3 separate regions of the Homo sapiens genome follow, and regions 1 and 2 are each reported to be linked to region 3. Evidence: microRNA targets listed by miRTarBase, many of them from high-throughput screens and not tested one by one. Region 3 holds a microRNA gene; each other region holds the end of a gene's coding sequence.
The links. The annotated mature microRNA hsa-miR-6735-5p reads CAGGGCAGAGGGCACAGGAAUCUGA and lies in region 3 at 1,708-1,732, shown strand. An mRNA with a match to its seed (bases 2 to 7 or 8) in the 3' UTR can be bound and repressed. Matches are read on the target gene's strand: a 7mer-m8 pairs with bases 2 to 8, a 7mer-A1 pairs with bases 2 to 7 and ends in A, and an 8mer does both.

Region 1: the mRNA of SDC2 is a reported target of hsa-miR-6735-5p. Seed matches in the 3' UTR shown: 7mer-m8 at 900-906.
Region 2: the mRNA of RUBCNL is a reported target of hsa-miR-6735-5p. Seed matches in the 3' UTR shown: 7mer-m8 at 2,170-2,176, 7mer-A1 at 1,823-1,829 and 7mer-m8 at 279-285.

What each region holds. Positions count from the first base shown.
Region 1 is chr8:96,609,057-96,612,311 of GRCh38, forward strand. It overlaps SDC2 (syndecan 2), which reads left to right. Exons shown (of 5, transcript NM_002998.4): 5 at 329-2,734. The coding sequence ends at 492. Among named protein-coding and RNA genes, the nearest start is that of CPQ, 35 kb to the right of the region's middle.
Region 2 is chr13:46,340,481-46,343,735 of GRCh38, forward strand. RUBCNL (rubicon like autophagy enhancer) reads right to left here. Exons shown (of 15, transcript NM_025113.5): 15 at 1-3,017. The coding sequence ends at 2,905. Among named protein-coding and RNA genes, the nearest start is that of LINC00563, 44 kb to the left of the region's middle.
Region 3 is chr1:43,446,837-43,450,091 of GRCh38, forward strand. MIR6735 (microRNA 6735) reads left to right here and starts at 1,703; the gene lies at 1,703-1,775. SZT2 (SZT2 subunit of KICSTOR complex) reads left to right here. Exons shown (of 72, transcript NM_001365999.1): 66 at 119-332; 67 at 709-862; 68 at 1,013-1,135; 69 at 1,243-1,648; 70 at 1,776-1,892. SZT2-AS1 (SZT2 antisense RNA 1) reads right to left here and starts at 1,808. Exons shown (of 2, transcript NR_046744.1): 1 at 1,267-1,808; 2 at 940-1,096.

The DNA of each region.
Region 1 (3,255 bases), not on the chromosome of region 3:
GCAGTTAGAAAATTAGAATATGAAATGTGAGTTCTGAAAAGACAAAAGTAGTTTTCAAGTATGGAATTAGTTAAGATCAAGGCCAGATTTTTCTTATCGAGGTTTTTGGGTGGTATTATTAACACTAACCAAAGAAATTACTGTACCTTCCTGAGGAGTTTCAGATTTGCATAGTTACCAGGTTGCTTCATTGAATCCAGCTTTTTTTTTATTGGGGTTTTCAAATTAAGCCTTTTATAAAAGTGTAAGTAGATTAGGCTTGACAATAAAGCTAATGTCTGCAACCCTTGAATCTCTTCTAAAGTAATCTTCCTTTTGGTTGTTTCAGCTGTCATTGCTGGTGGAGTTATTGGCTTTCTCTTTGCAATTTTTCTTATCCTGCTGTTGGTGTATCGCATGAGAAAGAAGGATGAAGGAAGCTATGACCTTGGAGAACGCAAACCATCCAGTGCTGCTTATCAGAAGGCACCTACTAAGGAGTTTTATGCGTAAAACTCCAACTTAGTGTCTCTATTTATGAGATCACTGAACTTTTCAAAATAAAGCTTTTGCATAGAATAATGAAGATCTTTGTTTTTTGTTTTCATTAAAGAGCCATTCTGGCACTTTAATGATAAAATCCCATTGTATTTAAAACATTTCATGTATTTCTTTAGAACAACATAAAATTAAAATTTAACATCTGCAGTGTTCTGTGAATAGCAGTGGCAAAATATTATGTTATGAAAACCCTCGATGTTCATGGAATTGGTTTAAACTTTTATGCGCAAATACAAAATGATTGTCTTTTTCCTATGACTCAAAGATGAAAGCTGTTTCATTTGTGTCAGCATGTCTCAGATTGACCTTACCAAGTTGGTCTTACTTTGTTAATTTATCTGTTGTCCCCTTCCTCTCCTCTGCCCTCCCTTCTTGTGCCCTTAAAACCAAACCCTATGCCTTTTGTAGCTGTCATGGTGCAATTTGTCTTTGGAAAATTCAGATAATGGTAATTTAGTGTATATGTGATTTTCAAATATGTAAACTTTAACTTCCACTTTGTATAAATTTTTAAGTGTCAGACTATCCATTTTACACTTGCTTTATTTTTCATTACCTGTAGCTTTGGGCAGATTTGCAACAGCAAATTAATGTGTAAAATTGGATTATTACTACAAAACCGTTTAGTCATATCTATCTAATCAGATCTTCTTTTGGGAGGATTTGATGTAAGTTACTGACAAGCCTCAGCAAACCCAAAGATGTTAACAGTATTTTAAGAAGTTGCTGCAGATTCCTTTGGCCACTGTATTTGTTAATTTCTTGCAATTTGAAGGTACGAGTAGAGGTTTAAAGAAAAATCAGTTTTTGTTCTTAAAAATGCATTTAAGTTGTAAACGTCTTTTTAAGCCTTTGAAGTGCCTCTGATTCTATGTAACTTGTTGCAGACTGGTGTTAATGAGTATATGTAACAGTTTAAAAAAAAAGTTGGTATTTTATAAGCACAGACAATTCTAATGGTAACTTTTGTAGTCTTATGAATAGACATAAATTGTAATTTGGGAACATAAAAACTACTGAATAAATCATGTGGCCTAATATTGAAAATGTCACTGTTATAAATTTTGTACATTTTTGATCAAATGTACATCTCCCCTTTGCTAACGGCCGTCTGCTCTCAAGGATGACGTGGGTTTGATTTCTAAGTGTTTCACAGTGTCTGTAAATCAAGACCAAAGAGCCTGTCGATGAGACTGTTTATTACCAGATTCACTTCTGAATTGGCCAGAGGAAATCTGAATGTATTATCCTGTGTGTGTCTAGGTAGAGATATTGGAAGGCTGCCAGGGGATTTCGAAGTTTGCAACCTTTATAGGATAACTGATGGCAATATTAAGACAGACGCCTGCTTTTGCAAATAACTTACAAGACTGTAAATTCCAAAGATCTGAATGGGGCTTTCCTGATGTTGGTATCTAAGGCTTAGGCCTATAGATTGATTTACCTTTGGAATTGTGCTCCAAATGTCTACTGAAGCTTAACCGAAGAACTAATAAATGGACTACAGTAGCTCACGTTACAGGGAAGGAGGGTAGGCAGGGAGGCTCTGTGTGTTAAAATGAGGGTCTCACTGCTTTAGGATTGAAGTGGCTGGAAAGAGTGATGCCTGGGGAAGGAGATGGAGTTATGAGGGTACTGTGGCTGGTACTTTCTGTACTAAACATTTCCTTTTTCTATTTTACCACTAATTTTGTTTTAAACTGTGAGCCGTCCAAGTCAGAAGAAGACAGCAAAAAAAGCAACTTTTCCAACATACAATTTACTTTTAATAAAGTATGAATATTTCATTTTGAGAACATTCCCTGGAATTGCCACATAATTCATTAAAAACATTTTTTTAAGCAACACTTGGAACAGTGTTTACTTTAAATCCTTAATGGCCTTAATTAATTCTCAGATTCCTGCCCCATCACTTACAGAACCAATTCACTTTAGAGTGACTAAAAGGAAACGATAGCCTAGCTTTCTAAAGCCACGCTGTGTCCCTCAATTACAGAGGGTAGGAATGGGTATACCTCTAACTGTGCAAAGCAGAGTGAAATTCAATTCATAGAATAACAACTGCTGGGAATATCCGTGCCAGGAAAAGAAAAATTTCTGGCAAATATTTTGTCACTGCTGTAAAGCAAAATATTTGTGAAAGTGCCAAAATAAAGTCTGTCATGCCAAAAGTAAATCATTGTATAGACTGACATCCAGTTTTCTTCAACTGTACACTTTCTGCTTAGTTTTTTTTTTTTAAGATGCAGTAAATAATACTATAAAAAGTGTTAGTAATGATTACTGAGTTCAGGAAAATTTTGGTAAAATGTAAATATTAAAGCCAATGTGAAAATTTCCTGTTTCCTTAACCACATGTAAACGATTTCTCTTGAGTGAATATGGCTTTGTGTTTGAGAGACTTGAGATAGTCACACTGTCCCATTTTCAGCCCGTAGGGGGAATAGGAAGCACTTGGGTTTTATTTTTGTTTTTCAGTTTTAGTTGCAGGTGCGTAGTACCTGAATTTCAGGATTAGGACCTGTTTAATAAAAGTGAACAAGATTATAAAAATTGCCATTTCTTAAGGGTTGATAGTTTCTCATCAAACGTTTACTGAATTTTTGTCCATGCACTTTTTTGCAAGTTAGACAAAATGTACTTGTTATGGATGTAGTCTGTTAGGTCTAGGAGAGTAAGCTAATTAAATAGAATATGATTACTTTCTTCAAGTGT
Region 2 (3,255 bases), not on the chromosome of region 3:
GCAGAGAGTCATATCCCTCATTTTACAAACAGAGGCTTAGATAATTTAAATGGCTTCCCCAGTGTCTGAGTCTATTTGTGTTGCTATAAAGGAATACCTGAGGCTGGGTGATTTATAAAGAAAAGAGGTTAATTTGGCTTATGGTTCTGCGGGCTGTACAAGCATCGCACCAATATCTGCTTCTGGTTAGGACTTGTGGCTGCTTCCACTCATGGTGGAGGGGAAGGGGAGCCTGCGTGTGCAGACTCCCCTTGTATGGAAACAGAGGAGGCAAAGAGAGGGCAGGGAGGTGCCAGGCTTCATAACAACCAGCTCTCATGGGAACTAAGAGTGAGAACTCACTCATCACCACAAAGGTGCCACCAAGCTATTCTTGAGGGATCCACCCGCATGACCCAAACACCTCTTATTAGGCCTACCTTCAACACTGGGGATCAAATTTCACCATGAGGTTTGCAGGAGTCAAACAAGCCAAACTAGAGCACCAAGTCACCATGGGTAGGTAGAAAGTGGCATATTTGGGATCTAATCTGAAGTTGTGGCCAATAATTCTCACCCAGGTCAACACACCAGACATCTTTGGGATGGCTTGCTCCTCCTCATCCTATAGCCTCTGCCTTGAGATGGTGTAACTTCCTCCCTGCAGTTGAGAATCATGACTGTAAATGACACACTACTGGAATTGCCCATGTGAAGAGTGCAGAGGCAGAAAATGAATCACTGACCTTTACAGCACTGCAACTGATGCCTCACAGTGGGTAATGGTCTGACCAAGCATTCATCTTCTTTCCGGCAGCCAAGGAAGAGTTGAACAGAAAACCCACACAATCAGGAAGACCCATTAAACAGCTATATATGCCACAACTAATTACTTCCTTATGGGGTGCTCCATGTGGGCTGAAGATCACTTCCCTAACAGGTGCCTTCCTGGGAAGAAGCCTCTATTATCACATTGGAGAGGAACAAAGTCTCAGACAAATCCCATACTGCAGTTATTTAAATGACCTCATTCTTCCTCAAAATAGAAAATCAAAAGCATCACTTCCTGGCAACTGCTGTGCACTCTTCCTTAATATCAAAGATATGTAACACACACAGGCTCATCAGTGCCTTACAAACATACAAACCCTGAGCACAGAGCCCTTCAAGCAATGCTTGAGCCATAGCAGCTGCCTTAAATCAACACTGATGTGAGAAAACACTCTGCCCAATGCCACTTCTGCAAGTTGGAGCAACACTTACCAGTTAAGGTTGTTTTTACTCCTTTGTCTTGAAAAGACACCACAAAAGAAGCAGGGCCTAAGCATGGGCTTTGGAGGCAGGTGGACTTGAATGTCAACCCCAGCTCCATCATGCACTTCCTGTGGGAACCTAGGAAAGTTATTTCTCTTCTCTAGGCCTCAGTTTCCTTGCCTGTAAATGGAGATATAGACATCTGCCTCAGAAAGGAATGTGAACATACCACTCTTACCCTTGATTCTTAACAGGGAATAGGAGCAATGGGCAAGAATGAAACATTGTTTGAAGTCTGGTTTTATTTATTCTATGTGCCTCTACACTTCTATAATACTTAGAAAAGATCTGGCTTAAATAATGGATGTGAGCACAGTTCTGGCAGAGGCACTGCGGATGAGAAAACAATTGACAGAATGAGAAGACTGAATGAAAAGAGATTGACAGAAGTCATTCATTTCTTTCATGTGCTCAGTACTATCCCATTGAATAAAACACACTCATACACATGGCTGGATGGGGTTAGGGGACAATCTGTGACGCTTTATTGCCTGCCTGTGCTGTCTGAGAAAATCAAGGTAGGTTTAGTTAGGGCATGTGAATCCCAGGGAATGTAATGCCCAAGCCCTAGGTTGCAAACCGTTCAGTCTAAAGGTATACCATGAAGGGACCCAGCCTCAAGGCCCCTTTCTCAAGTGGGAGAAAGTATATAGAAAGTAGAAGAAAAAAGAATAGGCTCACATGTTTCAGGAAAACATATAAGAACTATTAGAAAAAAGAAATTCATAAAGGTTTTGTGATTCATTTAACCTTATTAGTCAATGTCTATGATTTTAATGTTATTACTAGAATCACACTGTTCATTATTTCCCCCAGTTCGTTTAAATCTGCAAATACCTTATGTTCAGTTTTACATCTGTTAAAGCAAGATCCTCAAGGGCAGGGATGGAATTCTACTCACTTCTGCATCCCTTGACATTGCAGTGTGTGGAACAGAGATGACAAATACAGGTTCAATTTGTGCCACCTGAAAGAGTGCCATCTAGAAGCAGTTGCTTCAAACTGCACTTCAACGGGACCCACACGCCCTGCTAAGCAACTCAAACTCATCATGAAATAAATCTGCAGAAGAAATGTGTACTCTCTATTCAAACTCTGAAGTAAATAAAATGTGTATGATTGACACAATCACAAAATGGCATTTAAGTGGAAGTCTGCTTCCTGAAGAAATAAAAGCCAGAGCAAACAGATTTGGGGTCATATTTTTGTTCACTGAAAGGACCAACCAGTTTCATCAAACAAGCTTTAGAGAAAGAGAAACTGAGTAATTCATCTTGTCAGTTACAGTTCACATATATGCACACACATACAAACTGGCTCAGCATCAGTGAAACATAACTATTCAAATACAAAAGTATAAAAAACCTCTTTAAAAAACCAATAGCAGCCAAAACAGAACATTTGTAAACAAAACCACAACTATCAGCCCTGTGCTTAAACACAGAATCTGCATTCTTTTGAAACATTAAGTATATGCAATAAAGAGAATATAGACCATCTTTTTCCTTAATATACAATACCCAATATCTAAAACAATGTCACCAATAATAGACACAAATCGGTGTTATCATAAGGCATGTTGAACAGTCTTTTTCACAGTACTCAGGGGCATCATGTTGCTGCAGAGGCCACACTTTCCAGAAGTTTTCTCCTCGCTGTGATCCTCGCACACCGGGGGCACTCGGAGGACTGGAAGCACTGTTTGTGAAAGCAAGCCCTGCACGCTGCAAGCAAGGAAGAGAGCCGTTAGCAAACGGTCTATCTTGTTTTCTCACATTTCTGCAGACATTCGTCTCCATCCTAGGGAGGGAGAGGGGTCTGAATCCAGAGCCCAGAGTCTTCTAAAAAGAAACCAGCCAGGCTGAAACGCACGTTTCAGCAGGTCACATTTCAGCAGACCTGTTGGACTCTTCCAACAGGTCATGAACAGGAGGCTCAGAGAGCCTGATGTAACGGACACTG
Region 3 (3,255 bases):
CCACTAGGCCACAGCAGCAGGGGAAATCTTGTGCTTCTTCCCACGGAAGGAGGGAAATGTGTTTTGGGCAGCCAGTGCAGCCATACCTTAACCCTGTCTCCTGCTGCTGCCTCCCCAGCTGTCCATGCTGTTCACAGAGGAGTGTGACAAGGTGCGGGACCTGATGCACGTGCACTCGTTCAGCTATGACTTCCATCTGCGCCTCGTGCATCAGCACGTGCTAGGTGCCCATCTGGTGCTGCGGCACGGCTACCACCTCACCACCTTTCTGCGACACTTCCTGGCCCACCACCCTGACGGACCCCACTTTGGCCGCAATCACATTTACCAAGGTCAGTGCCCAAGGGCAAGCCAGTGAACCCAAAAAAGAACAGGCCACAGGTGCCTCCAGGTCAGGGCTGGTGGGACCACCTCCCTGGACAAGTGGTCCCATGTTGTTAATCATCTCATGTCACACATACCACGTCCCCATGTTTCTGTCCTGTGTCTGTTTCTTACCAGAGTTTGGACCCCATGTCACATGTCCCCTGCCCTCTGAGTCACTTCTGTCCCATCTCAGTGTTCCACAGGAATGCAGGAGCTCCTAAGGAAAGCAGACCCACTCTGCCTGCCAGTCAGAGCCTTAAAGACTCCCATCCCTGTGCCCCACCAGACCAGTGTGTCTGTCCTAGGCTTAGTGTCTGCTGTCTCCTGTTACTTATCCCTCAGGGACATTGGAGCTCCCCACACCACTCATTGCTGCCCACCAGCTATACAACTACGTGGCTGATCACGCCAGCTCTTACCACATGAAGCCATTGCGAATGGCCCGGCCAGGGGGCCCAGAACACAACGAGTATGCCCTGGTGTCGGCATGGCACAGGTAAGGCTGAGAGGGGCATCCAGCATGCACGCTGCAGGAGCTGGGGTTGGGACATACTTGCAGTAGGGAGACCAATGTTTTCTTGGGCAGGGGTGAGGTTTGTTTTATTAGAACCCCAGAGTTGACATCTCCCCAACCCGTCCTGCACAGTTCTGGCTCCTACCTGGACTCTGAGGGACTTCGACACCAGGATGACTTTGATGTGTCTCTGCTTGTCTGTCACTGTGCTGCACCCTTTGAGGAGCAAGGAGAGGCTGAGCGGCACGTTCTGCGGTCAGCAGATCCCCTACCTTGAACATGCCCATTTCCCAGCCTGCCCCACCCTGCCCTGTGTGTCTCTTGCTACAACCACCACTCTCCTGCCCTGCTCCCCACCCCAGGCTACAGTTCTTCGTGGTGCTCACCAGCCAGCGAGAGCTCTTCCCCAGGCTCACTGCTGACATGCGCCGCTTCCGGAAGCCACCCAGACTGCCCCCTGAGCCAGAGGCTCCTGGGAGTTCAGCTGGCAGCCCTGGGGAGGCCTCAGGGCTTATTCTAGCGCCTGGACCGGCTCCTCTGTTCCCACCACTGGCTGCAGAGGTGGGCATGGCACGAGCACGGCTGGCTCAGCTGGTGCGGCTGGCTGGAGGGCACTGCCGTCGGGACACCCTTTGGAAGCGCCTCTTCTTGCTGGAGCCACCGGGGCCTGATCGACTGCGGCTAGGGGGGCGCCTGGCCCTGGCAGAGCTGGAGGAACTCCTAGAAGCAGTCCATGCCAAATCCATTGGGGACATCGACCCCCAGCTGGTAAGGAACTGTGGGCTCCCGAAAGAGCTGGGATAGGTGCCAGGAATTCCACTGGCAGCCAGGGCAGAGGGCACAGGAATCTGAGGTGACTGGCACAGAAGACTCAGGCCTGTGGCTCCTCCCTCAGGACTGCTTCCTATCCATGACGGTCTCCTGGTACCAGAGCCTGATCAAAGTTCTCCTAAGCCGCTTCCCCCAGAGCTGTCGCCATTTCCAAAGCCCAGACTTGGGAACTCAGTACCTGGTAAGTCCCCTTGAGCTTCCTCTGAAAAGGGAAACACAGCAGAAATCCTCACCAAACAGATGTGCCCCTCAGCCTGACCAAACAAGCTCTGCTCTGGAGGGAGGCCTAGACAGAACGGGACTACACAGATACATGTAAAACCCTTCCAGTACCGGGCATCGAGCTACAGCATGTGATTCTCTGAGCAGCTCTGCCCTCAAAGACTCACCAAGAATACAAGCCTTGGCTTGAGATCCTGAGGGCCAGGCTCTGGAACTGACAACCCAAGGAGCTGTCAGAACTTTGTCAGTAGGCTGGAGCCCCAGAAAGGACCCCTTGGACTTTGAAGCCTTGTTACTTAAAGTGTGGTCCACAGACCAGCAGCCGCAGCACCTGGGAGCTTGCTGAAATGCAGGCTCTCCGGCCACATTTCAGACTGTTGACTCGGGATCTGCAGGTTGACAGTCTCCCCAGGTGATTTGTGTGCACACTGAGGCGTGAAAGCACTGCTGTAAAGGACAGGTAGAGAGAACTGTGGTGGTGGACACGAGCACAGGGCATTAAGGAGCCCACAGAGATGGGCCCAGCCAGAGCTGAGGTTCAAGAGAGGAGGCATTACAAGAGAAGACTTCAAGTGAGAAAGTAGGAGGTGGAGCCAGGTGAGGGGTCCTGCAGCACAGTGCTTGTGCAGAGGATTCATTTCAGGGTGCAGGAAGGGTCTCCCAGAGAAGCCAAGGTCAGTTAGGATGAGGCTGCAGTAGTGTCGGCGGTTGTGAATGGAGGCAGGTGCTCCTGCGGGTGGTGGGAAGGCTGGAGCAGGAGTGGGTTTTGGGGAAGGGTGACAAGCCCAGCTTGGGGCAAGCTGAGTCTGGGGTCCATAGGCCCTTCACTGTCTGCAAGGTCTGTGGGCATCAGGGATTCGAGCTCAGGAGAGTCCTAGGCAGCAGCTCTGTGAACAGGCGGTAACTGAAGCCTTGGGAGAGCAAATCATCCCGGGATGGATCACCAAGCAGAGCGTTAGGGAGCAGATGGACATAAGGGGACGACAAGACAATCCCAGGGGTGGTCAGAGAGGAGTCCCAGGACAGGAGGCAAGGAGGTTGTGCCAGGGGTACAGCACTCTCTGTTGATTGGCTTCAGTGTGCCAGGCTCTGTGTGGGGCCTCCAGGATCAACTGTTACCCCTCATTCTGATGCAGCTCAGACAGGCTGACCAGCAAGCCAGCGAGGATGAGGACTGAGGCTCAATTTGGAGACACGGTCCTATGTGACCTCAGGGTGCAGGCGGGGTGAGGTGTGGAGATGGAAGTAGGCCTCTCCTCATCCTCCCTTCACCTCAGGATGCCCTGTGGGAGGGTCTGTAGGGTCTGTGTCCCCTCCTCATC